Regions from separate parts of the Homo sapiens genome. Here all the other regions are reported to be linked to region 3. The links are microRNA targets in miRTarBase. Many come from high-throughput screens and were not tested one by one. Region 3 holds a microRNA gene; each other region holds the end of a gene's coding sequence.
Evidence for each region. Region 3 holds the annotated microRNA hsa-miR-596 (AAGCCUGCCCGGCUCCUCGGG, at 2,888-2,908, shown strand). A microRNA usually pairs through its seed, bases 2 to 8, with sites in the 3' UTR of a target mRNA and lowers its output. Matches are read on the target gene's strand: a 7mer-m8 pairs with bases 2 to 8, a 7mer-A1 pairs with bases 2 to 7 and ends in A, and an 8mer does both.

Region 1 (5,000 bases), not on the chromosome of region 3:
AAGAAACAAAAAAATGTGCCCTCAATGACCATTTGTGAATGAATGCATGCATGCCTATTGAAGAACTAAAATGTTACTTGTAAAGTTCATTTTGAAAGAAACCAGATTAAGTTACTCAATGGAATATCGGCTTATCTTTTCCTTCCAGGAAATAAATGTGACCTCTGGGAAAAGCGGCACGTCCTGTTCGAGGATGCCTGCACACTGGCTGAGAAGTACGGCCTCCTGGCCGTTTTGGAGACATCTGCCAAGGAGTCAAAGAACATAGAAGAAGTCTTCGTGCTCATGGCCAAGGAGCTGATCGCGCGCAACAGCCTGCACCTATATGGGGAGAGTGCCCTGAACGGCCTCCCCCTGGACTCCAGCCCCGTTCTTATGGCCCAGGGTCCAAGTGAAAAGACCCACTGCACTTGCTAAGATGTTTGCAAAGCCAGTTGCACCCACCAAAGAGGCCGCCTCTGAAACCAAAGGTAGCCAGGATACCGTAGTGTTGCCCCAGTGGCGCTTTAGACCCCAGCGTGGACTTGCCGCTCACCCCTAATCCTCCCAGTCTGGATGGGCCACACTTCTCCCTTGACTCACACCACAGGTCATAGCTGCTGACTCTCAGGAAAACCAGCACCATTGTTTTCACTGACTCTTGACTCCTGGAGAAGGCAGGACTTCAGGCTAGGAGAGGGAGGACGAAGTGTACTCTTCTCCCCTTTCACTTTTCTGTCTCCCTAGAGCTTCTGCTGCTTTCTACTGAATTTTGTTTCTTGCTTGAAGAAGAGGGTAGTGAAGGAAAGGAGGAAGGCAAAACAGCAAGAGAGAGAAGAGGCTGTTTGGAACATTCTGGAACAGTTTGAAACAGCTCAGGCAGGGAGAATGGAACGAAAGCCTGCAATGAGAAACCAGAATGCTGCTATCATTTTGTTCCTGACATTCACACCTCAGGTCTTCACTTTGGGGAGCGAAGCCTTTTAGCAGAAATACCAGAAGTACCATCTTGCCAAATGGTCAGGAACTGTCTGATAGAGATGGAACTGGAATTCACTCTATTCTAGCAGGGCTGACTTGGCCACCCTCTTGGGATAGGGGAAGACACCTGCAATTTTTTTTCTTTCTTTTTTTTTTTTTTTTTTTTGAGACAGGGTCATACTCTGTCACCCAAGCTGGAGTATAGTGGTGGGATCTTGGCTCACTGCAACCTCTACCTCCTGGGTTCAAGAGGTTCTCCCACCTCAGTCTCCCAAGTGGCTGGGACTACAGACACACGCCACCACTCCTGGCTAATTTTTGTATTTTTTGTAGAGACAAGGTTTCACCATGTTGCTCAGGCTGATCTTGAACTCCTGAGCTCAGGTGATCTGCCCACCTTGGCTTCCCAAAGTGCTGGGATTACAGGCATGAGCCACCATGCCTGTTCTTTTTTTTTTTTTTTTTTTTTGAGACTGAGTCTCACTCTGTCACTCAGGCTGGAATGCAGTGGCATGATCTCGGCTCACTGCAACCTCAACCTCCACCTCCTGGGTTCAAGCAATTCTCCTGCCTCAGCCTCCCAAGTAGCTGGGACTACTGGCACTCACTACCACGCCCAGCTCATTTTTTTTGTATATTTAGTAGAGACTGGGTTTCACTACGTTGGTCAGGCTGGTCTTGAACTCCTGACCTCATGATCCACCCGTCTCGGCCTCCTAAAGTGCTGGGATTACAGGCATGAGCCACCATGCCCGGCCCTTTTTTTTTTTTTTTTGAGACAGAGTTTCGCTCTTGTTGCCCAGGCTGGAGTGCAATGGTGTGACCTCGGCTCACTGCAACTTCTGCCTTCCAGATTCAAGTGATTCTCCTGCCTCAACCTCCCTAGTAGCTGGGATTACAGCCTCCCGCCACCACGCCTAGCTAATTTTTGTGTTTTTAGTAGAGGCAGGGTTTCACCACGTTGGCCAGGCTGGTCTCGAACTCCTGACCTCATGATCCACCTGTCTCGTGGCCTCCCAAAGTGCTGGGATTACAGGTGTGAACCACCGCACCTGGCCTTTTTTTATTATTATTATTGTAGAAATGAAGTCTTGCTACGTTGCCCAGGCTGGTCTCCAATTCCTGAGCTCACAGGTTTCTCCCACCTCAGCCTCCCAAAGTGCTGGGATTACAGGCATGAGCCACCATGCCTGGCACAATTTCTTTCTAGAACCCAAATCATCTGCCAGATCAGAAGTCATTTTTAAATTAAAATTAAATTGGTTCATAGATGAATATCAAGCCAGTGTTGTACTGCCCCTTCTGTAAGATATGGCCAGAGAGCAGCTGGTGCCTTCTGGGATGGAGTAACTGCGGCTTTCAGAACTAAACACGTAAGAGGAGGCTGGAAGTCACCAGGCACCCCTCGTTTCCAGGACTGTGTTAGGGGACATCAGGGCAGGCAGCAGGAGCAGGCCACGGAGCCCCTCCAGGGTCCCAGGGAACTGTGGACACTCACCTGGGGCTTCCGGAGGACAAACACCACTTATGATTGCAGCTGACATTTACTGAGCTGCTTCTCATGGCCAGAAGTTGTGTGAGGTCTGGGGAAAGCAAATGGTCCCTTTGGTTTGTGATGCCAGTGGAGGGGAAAAGAGGTACCAGCCGCATTCTGCTGCTCCTCTTTTTTTTTGAGACGGAGTCTCGCTCTGTCACCCAGGCTGGAGTGCAATGGTGTGATCTTGGCTCACTGCAACCTCCACCTCCCAGGTTCAAGTGATTCTCCTGCCTCAGCCTCCCGAGTAGCTGGGATTACGGGGGTATACCACCACACCTGGATAATTTTTGTATTTTTAGTAGAGACAGGGTTTCACCATGTTGGTCAGGCTGGTCTTGAACTCCTGACCTCAGGTGATCCACCTGCCTCAGCCTCCCAAAGTGCTGGAATTACAGGCTTGAGCCACTGCACCTGGCCTGCTGCTCCTCTTAACACCCTTGGACTTCCTGGCATCCTCTCATCCAGCAGTAGCTCTCAGTTCCCCCTTTCCCTGCGCCACATTTTTTTTTTTTTTTTTTGAGGCAGCGTCTCACTCTGTTGCCCAAGTTAGAGTGCAGTGGTGTCATCTCAGCTCACTGCAACCTCCACCTCCCAGGTTCAAGCGATTCTCCTGCCTCAGCCTCCTGAGTAGCTGGGACTACAGGCGCATGCCACCACACCCAGCTAATTTTCTGTATTTTTAATAGAGACGGGGTTTCACCGTGTTAGCCAGGATGGTCTCGATCTCCTGACTTTGTGATCCTCCCCCCTTGGCTTCCCAAAGTGCTGGGATTACAGGCGTGAGCCACCGTGCCCAGCCCTTTTTTTTTTTTTGAGACAGAGTTTCGTTCTTGTTGCCCAGGCTGGAGTGCAATGGTGCGATCGTGGCTCACCACAACCTCCACCTCCTGGGTTCAAGCGATTCTCCTGCCTCAGTCTCCTGAGTAGCTGGGATTACAGGCATGTGCCAACACGCCTGGCCAATTTTGTATTTTTAGTAGAGACAGGGTTTCTCCATGTTGGTCAGGCTGGTCCCGAACTCCCGACCTCAGGTGATCCGCCCGCCTCGGCCTCCCAAAGTGCTGGGATTACAGGTGTGAGCCACCGCGCCCAGCCCCCTGCTCCACTCTTAGCATCTGGGTATCAGGGCCCCAATCACAGCCTATCTGCCTTTCAGTGAGAGGAAGGCAGTCTTTAGGGCTCTTTCCCTGGACTGGTCTTCTCCTTGGCCTTAAGTTATTCTCCTGCTCCTTTATACATTTCTTGGTCTGCAAGGAGTCCTTAGGTAGGAGCCAGAATTTAAATTCTGACCTTCGGAATATATCCATAAACTAAGCCAACCACAGAGAAGAAGAGCAAAGCTAGGAGACCTACGAAGCACAAGCCTCCTCCCGGTTCTCCACCATCATCAGGAAGCACTCTTAATTTTTCTCAGTTAAGGTGCCTTTTAGAAATTTCTTGTCTTGCGACAGAGTTTTCATTCTTTGTTGATTAGTCTATTCTTGAGGAATGGATCCATCAATCTGTTCAGTGTGTGTCCCAGAGCCGACTCAGGGCGGGCACCGATCAAGATGAACAGCCTGCCGAGCCTCCTGTGGGGGCTAGCCCTCTCCTGTTCTGAGGAGCAGCCACGCAGCCTCCCCTGAAAGCAAACCTCGCCCTCTTTCCCCTCCTCCTTCACCCCCAGGAGGAGATCTCAGGTCAGAGACCAATGGCAGCCTGGAGTACTAGTGTTCCCTGACACATCCGTATTTTGATGGGAATCAAACACACAAACCTAGAGATAAAGCTGTAAGGTTGGAACTGTAGCCAGGACTTCAGCTCGCAGGATCACAGGAAAAGAAAGGCATCTAGAGAGAAGGTGGCCTTCTGGGAACCCCTAAGATCACCGCTGGGACAGCCATCGTCCTGGTGTGGGACATCCCCACTGGGAGATTGTTTTTCTATTCACAAGTATCCTCCACTCCAGGCCTCCCAGACAGGTGTTGAAGGGATGGAGATGGCTGCTTGGTGCCGGGTGGAGGGAGGGCTCTAAGGCTGGCTTTGGGAGGAGAGAGCTCCACACAAAGACACCAGCTGCCTGAGCAGCTCCCCTAAACAAGCTGCACCCCAGAGGAGTCATGTGAGTCCCTCATTTTTGCTGGAGTGTCTGCCCTTCCTCACAGAACCCTCCTCTCCTCACTTTGTTCACAAAGGGCAAGCTCTGAGACCAGCTGCCAAACCCTGGCTTCCACAGTCCAGTTAAGAATTTGCATTAGGCCGGGTTACCTGAGGTCAAGAGTTTGAGACCAGCCTGGCCAACATGGTGAAACCCCATCTCTACCAAAAATACAAAAATTCGCCGGGTGTGTTGGCGTATGCCTGTAATCCCAGCTACTCAGGAGGCTGAGGCAAGAGAATCACTTGAACCTGGGAGGCAGAGGTTGCAGTGAGCCGAGATGGTGCCACTGCACTCCAGCCTGGGTGACAGAGTGAGACTCCGTCTCAAAAATAAATAAATAAATAAACAAATAAGAATTTGCAC
Region 2 (7,266 bases), not on the chromosome of region 3:
GAGTCCAGAGGTTGGGGGTCACCAATTCCCTATGGGGGCAGCCCTGAACCACACTCTGCCCTAGGCCTCTGTTCCCTCGTCTGTGAAATGATAAACACAGTCCGAGGGGGATTCCACGTGGCCCCGAGCACAGAGACTTTCCCTACAAGCCCCTCCTTATCTTCCCTCTACCCCCTTTTAATATTTCATCCTCTCTCCCCACATTTTTCTTCTTCTGTCACCTTTCTTCACCCTAACCTGCAGCGCCGTGGGCTTAGCTAACCACTCCGGGGTGGTCAACCCTGGCCTGGATTCTCGACAAGCACCCTGTGGCTGTCCTAGGCATGGGTCCTGCTTTATCCTGAACCCACTGCAGAGCCTTTGGCTGCTCCTGCAAATCCAAACAGGACCTGCCCTGCCCACCCTCTACCTGGCCGCCGCATCCCCTCACAAAGTTGAGCTCTCTTGGACCCCAGGGCCAGCAGCCACGCTACCCCCCTTTGCCCTGGAATCCCAACCCATCCTTCGAGACCCCCTGTATGCATCTCTTCCCCAGGACCCACCCAATTTGTTCTCACTGCGCACTCCCCAGCCTTCTGTCCATTGTAATGAAATAGCTGTGTAGTTACTGCTGGATGTCTGCTCTCCCTCTAGAATAAAAGCTCCACGAGGGTAGAGCCGAGTCTCTCTGGTTTACTGCCATATCCCCCACATCTGACACAGAGTTGTGTTCAATAAACATGCATTTCACGAATTAACAGATGGATAGAAGCCCAGATGCAGGAATGAGCACGTGAGCCCAAACCCTTTCCACCCTGTGCCGCCCTTAGGTTATCCCAAAGGAGAAATGCTGAGGCAGGAGGATGTTGTGCTGTTAATGGGATGGATTTTGTAGCACTTGGAGGTGATGTAACAGACACAGTGGACACCAGGAGGCGAGGCGGGGTCTTCACCCACCACCATTTCTTGAGAAGAAAGGGCAGGCTGAGATACCGATTGCACAAAATCTTAACTGAAGAGGCTCCCACTCTTTGAATCTGTCTCCCTTGCATTTTTTTTTTTTTTTTCTGATTTATTCTTGAGCTCTGGTTCTGGTGATATTGAAGTTCAGCTCTTGACTCCTGTGGTGGCTGCCACCAGAGAGGAGGGAAGTGATCTAATTCCCAGCAAGGGAGTGCAGACAGGGTCAGGAGGTCCCCCTTGGAGAGGGTGGCTTGTTTGGGGTTTTTAATGGTGGAAAAGTAGTGCATGAAGGACACTGGCTACTAGGTCCCATTGCGTGGTCGTCTGGTCATGGCCTGGTGATTTTTGTTCTGCCTGTATCTTCCCCAGCAAGGAGCTGGACAGAAGGACGAACAGTTCCCCCAGGTAGCCCCTGCTCTCTGCCTCGTGGCTCAGCACCAGGAGGCTCACAGCACTTGCTGTGACTTCCTCCCTCTTACAGCTATTTTTATCATTATTCTAAGATTGAAGCAGGGGGCAGGCGAGGGGAGCAACTGGAATGAGCTACACTGAAGTCTCCCCTCACCCACCCACTCTTCCCTTCTATCCACAGGTGGGCCGCCACCTTGATACGTTCCCCACGGAGGCCGATCGCCAGAGAGCATTAAAAGCCCACCGGGAAGAGTGTGCCGTGCGCCAGGGGACCCTGCGGATGGGCAACTACACCCACCCCTAGCCCCTCCCTCCCCTGCCACAAGAAGCCATCTTGACATAGTGGAAAATTCCCAGAAGGACTCCCTATCTTGCCCCAACCCTGACATTCCCCCATTTTTATGCAGGTTCTGCTTCAAGGAGCTCAGATTCAAGTCTTAGGCTAATTGTTTTTGGTAAAAGTCCCCCCTTTTAGGTTAGCCAACATTAGTCTCCACTTAGCCCCAGTGACCCTCTACCTGGAGCCTCCTCCTCTCCTCCTCCTTCTCCTCCTAGGGCAGGCTCACCCTGCCTCTTCTCAAGCCCTCACCTGCCAAGACAAGCCCAAATTACAAGACAATTTTTTAGACTCCAGGCTAAGGGTCGATTCCATGGCTCTGCCCATTAAGTGTTAAGAACGACCTGTGTATTTGCTGCAGAAAGCATGACAGTGACGTGCTTTGAAAGCCCTCATTTTCTATTCCAAACATGAGTTTTAATTGCTCTTTTTGGGATGCCTGATGTCTCATCACGGCAGTATTATCTCTCTGGGACCTCTGACAGCAGGAAGAGCCAATGGTTCATTACTCGAGCCTGCCCCCGCCTCCTCAGTGCTGGGGCCCCGTCAATCAAGCAGGCCAAGTTGGACTCCTCCCCCAGGACTGACTTTGGAAGGTCAACCCACTCTGGAAAAAGCCTTCCAGGCCAGCGGGTAGACTGCTGAACACAGGCTGCTGAGCTTCTCAGCCGAATTCCTGGACACTTCCTCACTCGGTCTTTCCGTGTGTTCTTTGGATTCTCTCTGAAAATTTTATGCTGATCTATTTTAAATTAAAAATGCTATTTGTCATCCTCCTTTTGTGTCTCCATTTGAAAACCAGTGAGCAAATCAGCCTTAGAGACATCAAATGAGGGTGCTGCCACATAGAGACCTCTCAAGGTAAGCTAACCTCCAAAACATTCCAGCCACACCTTTTTTGAGGGAGGCAAATTTTCAAGTTTTAAATATCATTTCTAATCTAAGGGTTTTTTTTGTTTGTTTGCTTGTTTGTTTTTGAGACAGAGTCTCACTCTGTTGCCAGGCTGGAGTGCAGGGGCGCAATCTCAACTCACTGCAACCTCTGCCTCCTGGGTTCAAGCGATTCTCCTGCCTCAGCCTCCCGAGTTGCTGGGACTACAGGTGCGCACCACCACACCCAGCTAATTTTTGTATTTTTAGTAGAGATGGGGTTTCACCATGTTGGCCAGGATGGTCTTGATCTCTTGACCTCATGATCTGCCCCCCTCGGCTTCCCAAAGTGCTGGGATTACAGGCATGAGCCACCGCGCCCAGCCAAGGATTTCTTTCTTTTTTTTTTTTTTTTTAAACAGAGTCTTGCTCTGCCGCCCAGGCTGGAGTGCAGTGGTGCAATCTCGGCTCACTGCAAGCTCCACCTCCTGGGTTCACACCATTCTCCTGCCTCAGCCTCCTGAGTAGCTGGGACTACAGGTGCCCGCCACAACGCCCGGCTAATTTTTAAAAAATATTTTTAGCAGAGACGGGGTTTCACCATGTTAGCCAGGATGGTCTCGATCTCCTGACCTTGTGATCCACCCACCTCAGCCTCCCGAAGTGCTGGGATTACAGGCGCATGCCACCATGCCCAGCTAATTTTTGTATTTTTAGTAGAGATGGGGTTTCACCGTGTTGGGCAGGCTGGTCTCAAACTCCTGACTTCAGGTGATCCACCCGCCTCAGCCTCCCAAAGTGCTTGAATAACAGGCATGAGCCACCACGCCCAGCCCCCAGACTCATTTATCCAACTGCCCACTCAGCATCTCCCCTTGGGTGTCTGGCATTCATTGTTAACCACCATAGCCAAGGCAGACACTTGACTTTTTTTCTGCCAAACTTACTTCTCCCTCCGTCTTTCCCATCTCATAAGTAAGACCACCATCTACCCAGCTGTGGAAGCCAAAAGTCTTCAATACTCATTTTCCTTCATCCCTCCAATCTCCCAAGCAGGCAGAGTCTGAGTGGGCTGGCCCTGAGCAGGCGGTAGCACGCCATACCGCAAAAGAGTGCGAAGCACAGCTCTGCCCAGCAATTTCTGTGTGATCTTGAGCAACAGTCCTATCCTCTCTATGCCTCATCTCAGAGACAGGACCCCACGCATCACAGACTGTGTCTTCAAGCTAAATCAGGTGACCATTACATTAAAGAATGTGCATGACATGATTAGTACAGCAACTGGCACTTTTAAGCAATAGATTAATATGAATTATTATTTTTTTCTTATCACTGACTCACACTGCAGAGGCATCAACCAGAGCCCTGTGAGTGACTGAGGGACTGGGCAGGCCAGGACGCTCACGAGGACGGAGGGCTTTCATCCAGATACATCCAGAAGCTGAAGGATATTTTGAATCGAGCCCACTCTTTCGCTCTGAAATCCCCTACGGAAAGGGGAGGGGGCACATCAGGAGGCAGAAGAGTTTCCTGAAGAACCCAAAATTGGCCCCACTGTGGCAACAGAGATGCCCTCCCAGGCCTGCTTTTCCCCAGGACCTGGGCCGAGGCAGGCAGGACAGGCTCAGCTAGGAAATCTCTTTTGTTTCTCCAATCACTCCTTGCCCCATTTGCTGTGGGACCCGCTAGGGCTGTGGCAGATGCCCTGGAAGCATCACTCTGGGTGCTCTCTGGAGTCCTCCGGGTGCTCCCAGCCCAGGCCGGAAGCAGTGCTCACTGGAGAGACCCTCAGCTCCTTGTCCTACAGTGCCACCTGCTGGCGAGTCTGAGTCAGAGGCGGCGGAGATTCCCGGCCCTTCCCTCTCTCCTGGCGTCCTTCCCCCACCAAGCCTGGTTCTTCCCGCCTCATTGATTATCTGTGACTGCACAAAGCCCCGAGTCTGATTCTGGCCTGATTCTACTTTCTTGGGTATCCTGTCACCTCGGCCAAACCCCTGTCCTCACCTGAGCTGACCCTGGCTGGGGCAACTACCTGCCCTTTATGACCTGGATAGAGTCCCCACAGCGTCCAGCCTGGAAGGGCCTTGGGGATCATCTTGTTCGTCTCCCTCCACTGCCATTTCCTCAACTTCATAGGTGGAAAGTGGACGTGAAAGGAATCCTGAGTCCACTCACGAAGCCAGGGCAGTGAACTCTCCCAGGCCAGTGACGTCCACGACACGTTCCAGAGCCTGCCCCCCAAAACCCCTTCCCAATGAAAGATGGATGGAAATGGGGATAGCCTAGCTTTCCATCCCAAGTCCTCCCAGTCACGCACCAACAAATGCCGGGTGAGCGTGAGTGTCGTTGGAGGTATGACTTTGTGCCTCCGTTTTGGCTAATTTCCTCACTGGTTGGCAGTTAGGAACATTCTACCTCCTGGTTGACCTTCTTGGCAACACCTCATAGGAGGTTTAACCAAAGAGGTCCACAGGCACTGTTTCCACAGGCCTAGGGAGGCAGCTGGTCTGGGCCCTCACCTGGCCTGCTTGAAATTCTCTGAAGTCCCCTCCAAGGTAAGAGGGAGGCAGCACCACACTTATGTGCACCTGGCAAGGTGGACGGGGCAAGTGCAGGACTGGGTGCCAGAGCGTGGAGATGGAGCCGTTGGGAAGAGGACTCATGAAGATGGACAGGCTTAAGGACACCTGGAGACGAGGCTGAGTCTTCACCCACCACCATTTCTTGAGAAGAAAGGGCAGGCTGAGATACCGATTGCACAAAATCTTAACTGAAGAGGCTCCCACTCCTTGGATCTGTCTCCCTTGCATTTTTTTTTTTCTGATTTGTTCTTGAACTCTGGTTCTGGTGCTGTTGAGGTTCAGCTCTTGACTTCTATGGTGGCTGCCACTGGGCAGGAGGGAAGTGATCTACTTCCCAGCAAGGGACTGCAGACAGGGCCAGGAGGTCCCCCTTGGAACATCCAGGAGAAGATAAAGGGTGGTAGAGCTACTTAGCATCCATACAGTGGCAGGACAGACTTCCCGGATGAAAGGTCCAGCTCTCCTCCCACACTGACCCCCACTGGCTTCAGTCCATGGCCAGATTTTTAGAGCCCAAACTTCATTAATTCTGTCTCTCTCTCTAAGATATAACCATATAATTAATTAACAATTTCCTTGGTCAGAAGAGAGAAGGTGGTTCTGGAGTCTCACTGTTGTGGAGGAATGGTAGCCATGAGCTACCATAAGGCCAGCCATGTCTGCTGCCTGCCTAGCAGGGGGCTCCTGGAAGCACTGCTCATAGGCCACAGACCCAATTCTAGTCCCCAGGGAGGTCCCTGGATCCACACAGAGTTGGTTTGGCTTTTAATTCATCTATCCCAGTGCCCCAACTAAACCACAGATTTAGAAGTCCAGGGAAGGCACGTCTCTGCAGCAAGCTGATCCCAGCCTAGGTGCTGAGGTGTGCCCCCAATGGCAGCCAGACAGGTCTGTGTCTCCAACCAAGCACCTTCGCTTGCATTTATCCGTATGAACCCAATCATTCTTTTTGCTGTACTCATTTTTACTTGGGAAACCCTTTGATGCTTAAAATCATCACTAAGGAAAAATAAAACTAGGTTGGCTTTTTATGCAGGTTCCTAGAATTGAATGCAGGTAACTTATAAACTTGAATGTACAATGGGAGATTATCTATGAAGGGGATTTAGATCCATGGGCACCAATGCATTCTGTGGGCTCCATTCAAGTGGATCAGCTCTGTCCCACTCTCCATGACTCACCAGTATCTGGCATGATGCACAGGATGGAGGGTATGCTAGGAAGGAAGGGAGGAAGGAAGGAAGGAGGGAAGGGGAGGGGAGGGATGGAGAGAGGAAGGGAAGGAAGAAGGAAAGAATGGAGGGAGAAAAAAAGGAAGGGAGGGAAGAAGGAAAGAAGAAACAGGGAGGGAGTGAGTGGGGAGGGAAACAGGAAGAAAAGGAGGGTGAGAGGAAGAAGAGAGAGGAAGAGAGGAAGGAAGAAAGGGAGGGAAGGGGCAGGAAGGGAGGGAGGAGGAGCCAATGGGAAGGAAGGGAGAAAGGGAAGAGGGGAGGAAGACAGGAAGGAAGGGAGGGAGGAGAGGAGAAAGGAAGGGAGGGAGGTAGGAAGAGAGGGAAGGATGAAAAGAGGAAAAGAAAAAATATGTTCTTTTCCTGGTTTCAGGAGCTCTATGAGGTTTTAAGCTAAAACAAAACAAACAAACAAAAAAAAAACACATAAGAACAGCATGACCTTGAAGCCCACAAATTGCCCAAATCCTTGTCCAACTCCACTGTTTGCAGAGCAGAGAGATGACACCCAGGCCTGGCCTGTATCATTCGAATCCTCTGCTCACTTTGCCTTAAAAACTGGTTTTGGTAGGAAGACCCTGGGTAAAGGTGGGTGCTGACTTTTCTAGAGAGGGCTGAGGAGACAAGCCTGAGGACTCAAACCTGCCAGAGGAAAAAGGCTCTAGGTATTATTAACAGCAGTTGTACTATGAATTACATAATTGCTATTCTTCGAGCCTGCAGCCAAGTGCCAAGATTCCTCACACGAACCACGTGAAGAGGGCAACAATATCCCCACCTTACAGCTGGAAGAAAAAACAGCTCAGAAAGTGACCTGCTTTAAAAAAAGAAAGACGGCGATTTGCTGAAGGTCACAGAGTGCATCCTGGACTAGGATGAGACGGGAGAGGCACTC
Region 3 (7,266 bases):
CTGACTCCTTTGAAACAGAGGAACAGTGTTAAGCCTCTGGATCTTTTCTGGGTGCCTCCAGCCTCCTCTCTGCTGCTTCTCTTTTTTACCTTTCCTCTCCTCTGCCCCTCTTTTGCCTTTGGCCTGCCCTCCATCAAACGGGGGATGGATGGAGCGGGCATGGGAATCAGACATGTTTCAGGCAAGCCACCTACAGGGCCCGTCTTGGGAAGGCCGGCTGTCCGTGCTGGCTGCTCTTCGGACACAGGCATCGTATAATTTCCCTCTTTTCACTCCTTCCTTAATGACCACCTTCTACTTACCAAGGTGCATTTCTATTTTTGTTTTGTTTTGTTTTTGAGAGAGTCTCACTTTGACGCCCAGGCTGGAGGGCAGTGGTGCCATCATAGCTCGCTGTGGCCTCACGCTCTTGGGCCCAAGTGATCCCCCAGCCCCAGCCTCCCAAGTAGCTGGGACCATAGGTGCACGCCACCAGGCTCAGCTATTTTATTTATGTATTAATTTTTTTGTAGAGGCGAGTCTTGCCATGATGGCCAGGTTGGTTCAAGGTGCATTTCTAATTCAGCAGACCAGACTAGTGTGAGTGAACCCCTAGAGACACACTGCAATGCTCGTTTATGTAGCTAGGGACAAGCCTCTGTTTCAGCCAGACCATCCGCTCTAGGCTCTCCAGCCGGGAAGGCAAGACCCCAAGGCCACTGAATGCCCCGTGAGATGTGGGTGTTGGCATCTATGCTGGGAGCCCTCGCTGTGTGGACTGGACTATCTCTTAGCTTGGGATGAGAGGAGGACCATGCTCACGTAGGGAAGCCGAGTGTGCCGAGTGTGTGTTCTGTCTGCCCCTCCACTTTCCCTTCTTCTGCAATCCGTTTTCCTGGTGACATCTACCCACTGTTTTCTCCCACCGAAATGTCCGCAGTGTGTTCCTCAGCCTGTTTGTGTTGCTAGAAAGGAACACCTGAGGTTAGGTAATTTATAAAGAAAAGAGGTTTATTTGGCCCCTTTTTGTACTAGAAGCATGGCGCCAGCACCTGCACCTGGGGAGGGGCTCAGGCTGCTTCCACTCACGGTGGAAGGGGAAGAGGAGCCGGCACGCGGAGAGATCAGAGAGAGAAAGTGGCAGGAGGCGGCCAGGCGCGGTGGCTCATGCCTGTAATCCCAGCACTTTGGGAGGCCTAGACAGGAGGATCACCCGAGGTCAGGAGTTTGAGATGAGCCTGGGCAACATGGCACGACCTCATTACTACTAAACATACACAAATTAGCCAGGTGTGGTGGTAAATGCCTGTAATCCCAGCTACTTGGGAGGTTGAGGCAGGAGAATTGCTTGAACACAGAGGTGGAGGTTGCAGTGAGCTCAGATCGTGCCACTGTACTACAGCCTGGGCGACAGAGCAAGACACCAAGACTCCGTCGAAAGAAACAGAAAGGAAGGAAGGAAGGAGAGAGTGAGAGAAAGAGAAAGAAAAGAAAGAAGGAAAGAAAGAAAGAAAGAAAGAAAGAAAGAAAGAAAGAAAGAAAGAAAGAAAGAAAGAAGGGAGGGAGGGAGGGAGGGAGGGAGGGAGGGAGGGAGGAAGGAAGGAAAGAAAGAAAAGAAAGGAAGCATGGGGGAGGTGCCAGGCTCTTTTTAGCATCCAGCTTTCACAGAACTAATACAGCAAGAAGTCACTCACAGCCCCTCCATTAATCTATTCACGAGGGACCCACCCCCATAACGCAGACACTTCCAACCAGGAGGCACCTCCAACACGGGATACAATTTCAACATGAGATTTGGAGCGGACACACATGCAGGCCATGGCGGCGTTCTAACGAGATGGGGTGCAGCGTTCTAACCAGACGGGGTGCAGCGTTCTAACGAGACGGGGTGCAGCGTTCTAACGAGACGGGGTGCAGCGTTCTAACCAGATGGGGTGCAGCGTTCTAACGAGATGGGGTGCAGCGTTCTAACCAGATGGGGTGCAGCGTTCTAACGAGATGGGGTGCAGCGTTCTAACGAGATGGGGTGCAGCGTTCTAACCAGATGGGGTGCAGCGTTCTAACGAGATGGGGTGCAGCGTTCTAACCAGATGGGGTGCAGCGTTCTAACGAGACGGGGTGCAGCTTTCTAACGAAATGGGGTGCAGCGTTCTAACGAGACGGGGTGCAGCGTTCTAACGAGACGGGTGCAGCGTTCTAACGAGATGGGGTGCAGCGTTCTAACGAGACGGGGTGCAGCGTTCTAACGAGACGGGGTGCAGCGTTCTAACGAGACGGGGTGCAGCGTTCTAACGAGATGGGGTGCAGCGTTCTAACGAGACGGGGTGCAGCGTCCGTTTGGGAAGGCGGAAGAAGCCTGTGAGGTCCAAGAGGGCGGATGGAGAAAGTTCCCCAGCAGGAACTCCCCGCTAGGGAAGCTTTAGAATTTGCCCGGGAGAGCGGGGGGGTGCTGCGGTGGTCAGTGTGGAGCATTTGACCGGTGGAGGCCCGGGATGCACCGTCCTGCCGCCCACGCACTCGCGGCAGAGCCCAGGGCGGCCTGCGCAGCTTGCATAGGGCCCACGGGACGCCGCCCACGGGGAAAGCCGTCTGTAACCATCCGAGCCTAGATACTCCCTGTTTACCTGCAGACACACCCACCGCACGGCCCAGGAATACGGCCACTGCGGAAGTCAAGAGGAGACTGCTGCGTTCCCTTTGAAACAGCCCAGGGCGGCTCATCAAGGCTGCAGAAAACATTACAGCCCCACAGGCAGGGCTGCTCCGGCCTTCGTTTAGCAGCTTGATTGAGGCGTCATTGGCACACGGCGAACTGCGCGTCATTAACGTGGGCGGTTCAGTGAGTTCTGAGGAACGCATAGCAGGTGGATCCGTCGCCACAGTCGGGAAAGCGAGCACGGCCTCTCCGAAGCCTGCCCGGCTCCTCGGGAACCTGCCTCCCGCATGGCAGCTGCTGCCCTTCGGAGGCCGACCCGACCCATCCCTGGGTGCTGTCTAGGTCACTGTCCTTGTGTGTTTTTGTTTTACTTTAGAACTCTTATAAAGACACAAACCGATGAGTAGAGACAAACTCACACTAGGAAATGGACTGGGTGTGGTTTGCAAAGCGGGGAGCGCGGTCTGTGTCCGGAACCCTCTGAGCTCAGGCAGCGTCCTGGGCTGTTTCCTGGGGCAGCGGCCACAGCCGTCCTATCTGCAGAGCATCCTGCTTTCCTGGAGGGCATCTGCGATGGCCCCCAGGCTGTACTGTTCCCTGTAAGTCCCGAGCCCCCTGTGGGGACAGGCGCTGGGAGGGGTGTGGCCTGCTGGGGGCTCTCGGATGTGTTGCCCCAGGGAGCCCGGCCGGGTGATGCCTCGGGGTGACTGGGGACGGCAGGAGGGAGGGGAAGGCAGGGCGCGGAGCAGTGAGGTCGGCAGCTTCTTCCCAGCGCTCGTCGACACTCCAGCCTCTTCAGCCACGTCTGGGGTTGCGTGAGCCCAGACAGAACTCATGGCTCGAGGCTGGGAGGCTGAGAGGCCTGAAGGGGGCCTCTGATTTCCATGTACCCCCTGCACCCCATGTTCGTGTGGCCTCCGCACTTGCCCAGGGCCTCTGCCGTGTGACAGCCCCACCCCAGCCCCACGCTGCCCCAGGGTCTCCCTGGAGCGCCGTCTGTCCTCTGCCAGGCTGTACCTGGGTCCCGTGACTGAGCGGCACTGGGTGGAGACTCACTTCCTGGCTCTTCTCCCATCGCAGCACCTGAGCAGCCCCGTGACTGCGGCCTGAGGTCTGCCCCACGTGCGCTGTGGGCCAGGCAGAGCGCCAGGTGCACCCAGGATGCCTTCATCTTCACCGCCGCTCCAGAGCCAGGGACTGGTGACTAACCCTGTATCCACGAGATAGCAGGCTCAGTACGGTCAGGGACTTGTCTGAGGTCTCACATCCAGGGTTGTTCGCCGTCCCCGGGCTCAGTGTCTCGCTCCCCGCCTGCGGAGTGGAGTAGTTCTGAGATGTGTGCATGCCATCTCCCTTTCAATGGCGCCATCCTACAAGTGGCCTCAGCCAAGGTTCAGCCAGTAGGAGGCAGACCTGGAGAGATTTAGAGCCTGGATCCGGCACCACGATGGGGGCCTGGGAGCGAGGTCCAGGCAGGCAGGCCGTGGGAAGGGCAGGCTGGACCTGGGGCAGAGCTGAAGCTACCGCCCACAGCGGAATTTCTTCTCTGGAAAGCCTTTCCAGTGCTGAATCGGGCCCACCCGGATTGTCTAACATAGTCTTCCTCATTTAAAGTCCACTGTGATGGGTCTTTTGCACACCAACAGAACACCTCCACAGCCACATCTGGACCCATGTTGAATGAATTACCGGGGACTGTCACCTGGTCAAGGTGACATATAAAACTGACCCGCACAGTAGGTGCGAATGTCTTTCCAATTCTTTGCAGGAAACTGAGGCACAGCAATGCAGATAGCACAGCTGGTAAGGGAAGTGCCTGGGATGTGAACCCAGGAACTGTGCCCAGGAGTGGATACAAGCTTCCATCTTCGGACAGTGCCTCAGGCTCCCCCGAGATGTCCATGGGGTCAGGTGCCCTGACACCGGTCTCTGCACATGAAAGTGTTGAGTCTTCATGCTGCCTAAGTAGGTTTTGCTCTTGTTTTCAGTGAGGAGACTGAGGCCCAGGACATTGAATGACGCCCATGTTCATCCATATAGTGGTAAAAGAGGCAGAAGCCCCCGGGCCTATTTGATGATAGAGCCCAGGCCTTTAGGCCCTGCTAGAGCTGACCTCACGCACCCGCTCCGCGTGGGGCATGGAGACGTCTCTGGAGTAGAGGCGAGGCCTAGAACCAGGCAGGCTGTCTTTGCCATTTTTTTCCTTTCTGAATGTCCTAACTAGGGTATAGATTATCCCTACCCTCTGCATGGGCCTTGCACTTAATTTGCTTGCAATTAATTAAGGGATATTTTGTATTCCGTCAATAAAGGGAATCATTATTTTTTTAAAGGAACCCAGCTTTTAAAACCCCTTTTTGCTGATACATAACTTAATTTGTTCCTGCTACTGTAACAAAACACCAGAGACTGGGTCATTTATAGACAACAGGAGTTTATTTCTCACAGTTCTGGACGTGGGGAAGTCCAAGATCAACGTGCCAACAGGTTCAGTGTCTGGGGAGAGCCTGGTCTCTGCTCACAAGACAGCACCTTGAGCACTGTGCCCTCACTGGTAGGAGGGGTGAACAGCCCCCTGGCACTTCTACAAGGGCACTAAGCCCATCCCTCATGACCCACTAACCTCCTCAAGGCCCCACCTCTTACTGCTATCACGTTGGTGATGAACTTTCAGTCATCAAGGGGGATGCATTGAGGCCACTGTATATATCCCATGAAGTAGCTTACTCTTGTGTTCGGCTTGATTCTATTTACAAAGTGAACACACCCATGTGTCTGCAAATCAAATCAAGATGTAGTCACCGTTTTCATCACTCCCCAGAATTCCTTTGTCTTTTCTGAGACAATACCCCCAAAAATAACCACTGTTCTGATTCCTATTATTATAGGTTGGTTTGGCACATTCTTGAATTTCATAAAAATTGAATCATACTATATGTGCCCTTTTGTCTATGTTTTTCATGTTTTCAAGATTCATTGTTATTGAACATATCAGTTTCTTCCTTTTTATTACTGTATTATTAGTATTCTATTATTCTATGAAGATACAATACTTTATGAGTTCACCTGTTGATGGAATTTGGGTTGTTTCCAGTTGCGAAGTATTTGAACTGTTTTGAAGAAAGAATTCTTGTAAAAATCATTTTTTTTTTTTGAGACAGGGTCTTGCTCTGTCCACCCAGGCTAGAGTGCAGTGGTGGTGAACATGACTCATTACAGCCTTGACCTCCCAGCCTCAAGCGATCCTCCCACTTCAGCTTCCTAAGTAGCTGGGACTGGAGGTGGAGACTATCATGCTAGACTCCTGGGCTCAAGCAATCCTCCACCTTGGCCTCCTAAAGTGCTGGGGTTACAGGTGGGAGTCACCATGTCTGGCTGTAAAAGTCTTTTAAGGGACTTATGTTTTCACTTGCCTTGGGCAAACCTAAAAGTGGGATTGCTGAGAAATGGGCAAACAATTAATCAGAGTGGTTGCGCCATTTGCACTCTCATCGCCTTGTATAGTGGTTCCAGGGGCTCCACATTTTTACCCTTGCCATGTCGGTCTGCAGTTTCAGCCGTGCTTGGATGACGGTGGTGGCATCTCATTGTGAGTTTACTTTGGGTAACACTGAGCACTATTTCCTGTTCTTGTTGGCTATCAGTACATCTTTGGTGAAGTATTTACGTCTTTTGTTTATTTTTAAATAGACTTGTTATTGTTATTTACAGGCTTGTTATTGTTATATTGTTTTGTCCCTTTTGAAATAGACTTGTCTTGTTATTGTTCATTTGCAGGAGTTCTCTATTTACCAGGACTATGGTTTGAACGCGTTTTCCCCAAAGTTTATGTGTTGGAAACTTGACCCCCAATGCAGCAGTGTTGGAAGGTGCCTACTAGGTGGTGTCTGGGTCATGGGGGTATGACCCTCATGGATGGATAAATGCCATGACTGAGGCGGTGGGCTCCTTATAAAAGAATGAGTTTGGGTGAAACCTCGTCTCTACTAAAAATACAAAAATTAGCTGGGTGTGGTGGCACATACCTGTAATCCCAGCTACTCGGGAGGCTGAGGCAGAATAGCTTGAACCAGGGAGTCGGAGGTTGCAGTGAGCAGAGATCGCACCACTGCACTCCAGCCTGATGACAGAGCAAGACTCCGTCTCAAAAAAAAAAAAAAAAAAGATAAGTTTGGCCCATTTTGCATCCTCCCTCCCCACCTCCGCCTCCCACCTTCCGTCATGGGATGATGCAGCCCGAAGGTTCTTGCCAGATGTGGCTCCTTGATCTTGAACTTCCCAGCCTCCAGAACTGTGAGAAATAAATTTCTTTTCATTGTAAATCACCCATTCCCAGGTATTCTGTTACAGCAGCACAACGTGGATTAAGACAAGCCATTTGTGGGATATATGCATTGCCCCTGTGTTCTCCCAGTCTGTGGCTTGCCTTTTCATTTTCTTAATGATGTCATGAGATGAGTAGAAATATTAAATTTTGATAAGCCATTTAATCATTTTTAAATGGTCGGTCCATTTTCTGTCTTACCTGAAGATCCGTAAGATCTTTTCTTATATTTTATCCTAGCAACTTTATAATTTTTACACTTAAGTCTATGATCCATCTGAAATTCCTAAATTCTATTTTAATCCTA

Region 1: the mRNA of RAB19 is a reported target of hsa-miR-596. Seed matches in the 3' UTR shown: 7mer-A1 at 666-672.
Region 2: miRTarBase lists CFAP77 as a target of hsa-miR-596. Seed matches in the 3' UTR shown: 7mer-m8 at 1,910-1,916 and 7mer-A1 at 1,985-1,991.

The regions. Positions count from the first base shown.
Region 1 is chr7:140,425,734-140,430,733 of GRCh38, forward strand. It overlaps RAB19 (RAB19, member RAS oncogene family), which reads left to right. Exons shown (of 4, transcript NM_001008749.3): 4 at 149-2,241. The coding sequence ends at 417. Among named protein-coding and RNA genes, the nearest start is that of RAB19, 24 kb to the left of the region's middle.
Region 2 is chr9:132,570,854-132,578,119 of GRCh38, forward strand. CFAP77 (cilia and flagella associated protein 77) reads left to right here. Exons shown (of 6, transcript NM_001282957.2): 6 at 1,535-2,466. The coding sequence ends at 1,657. Among named protein-coding and RNA genes, the nearest start is that of BARHL1, 8.1 kb to the right of the region's middle. RefSeq lists a silencer at 4,387-4,456.
Region 3 is chr8:1,814,359-1,821,624 of GRCh38, forward strand. MIR596 (microRNA 596) reads left to right here and starts at 2,873; the gene lies at 2,873-2,949. RefSeq lists enhancers at 1-324, 325-824, 1,504-2,172, 2,173-2,840.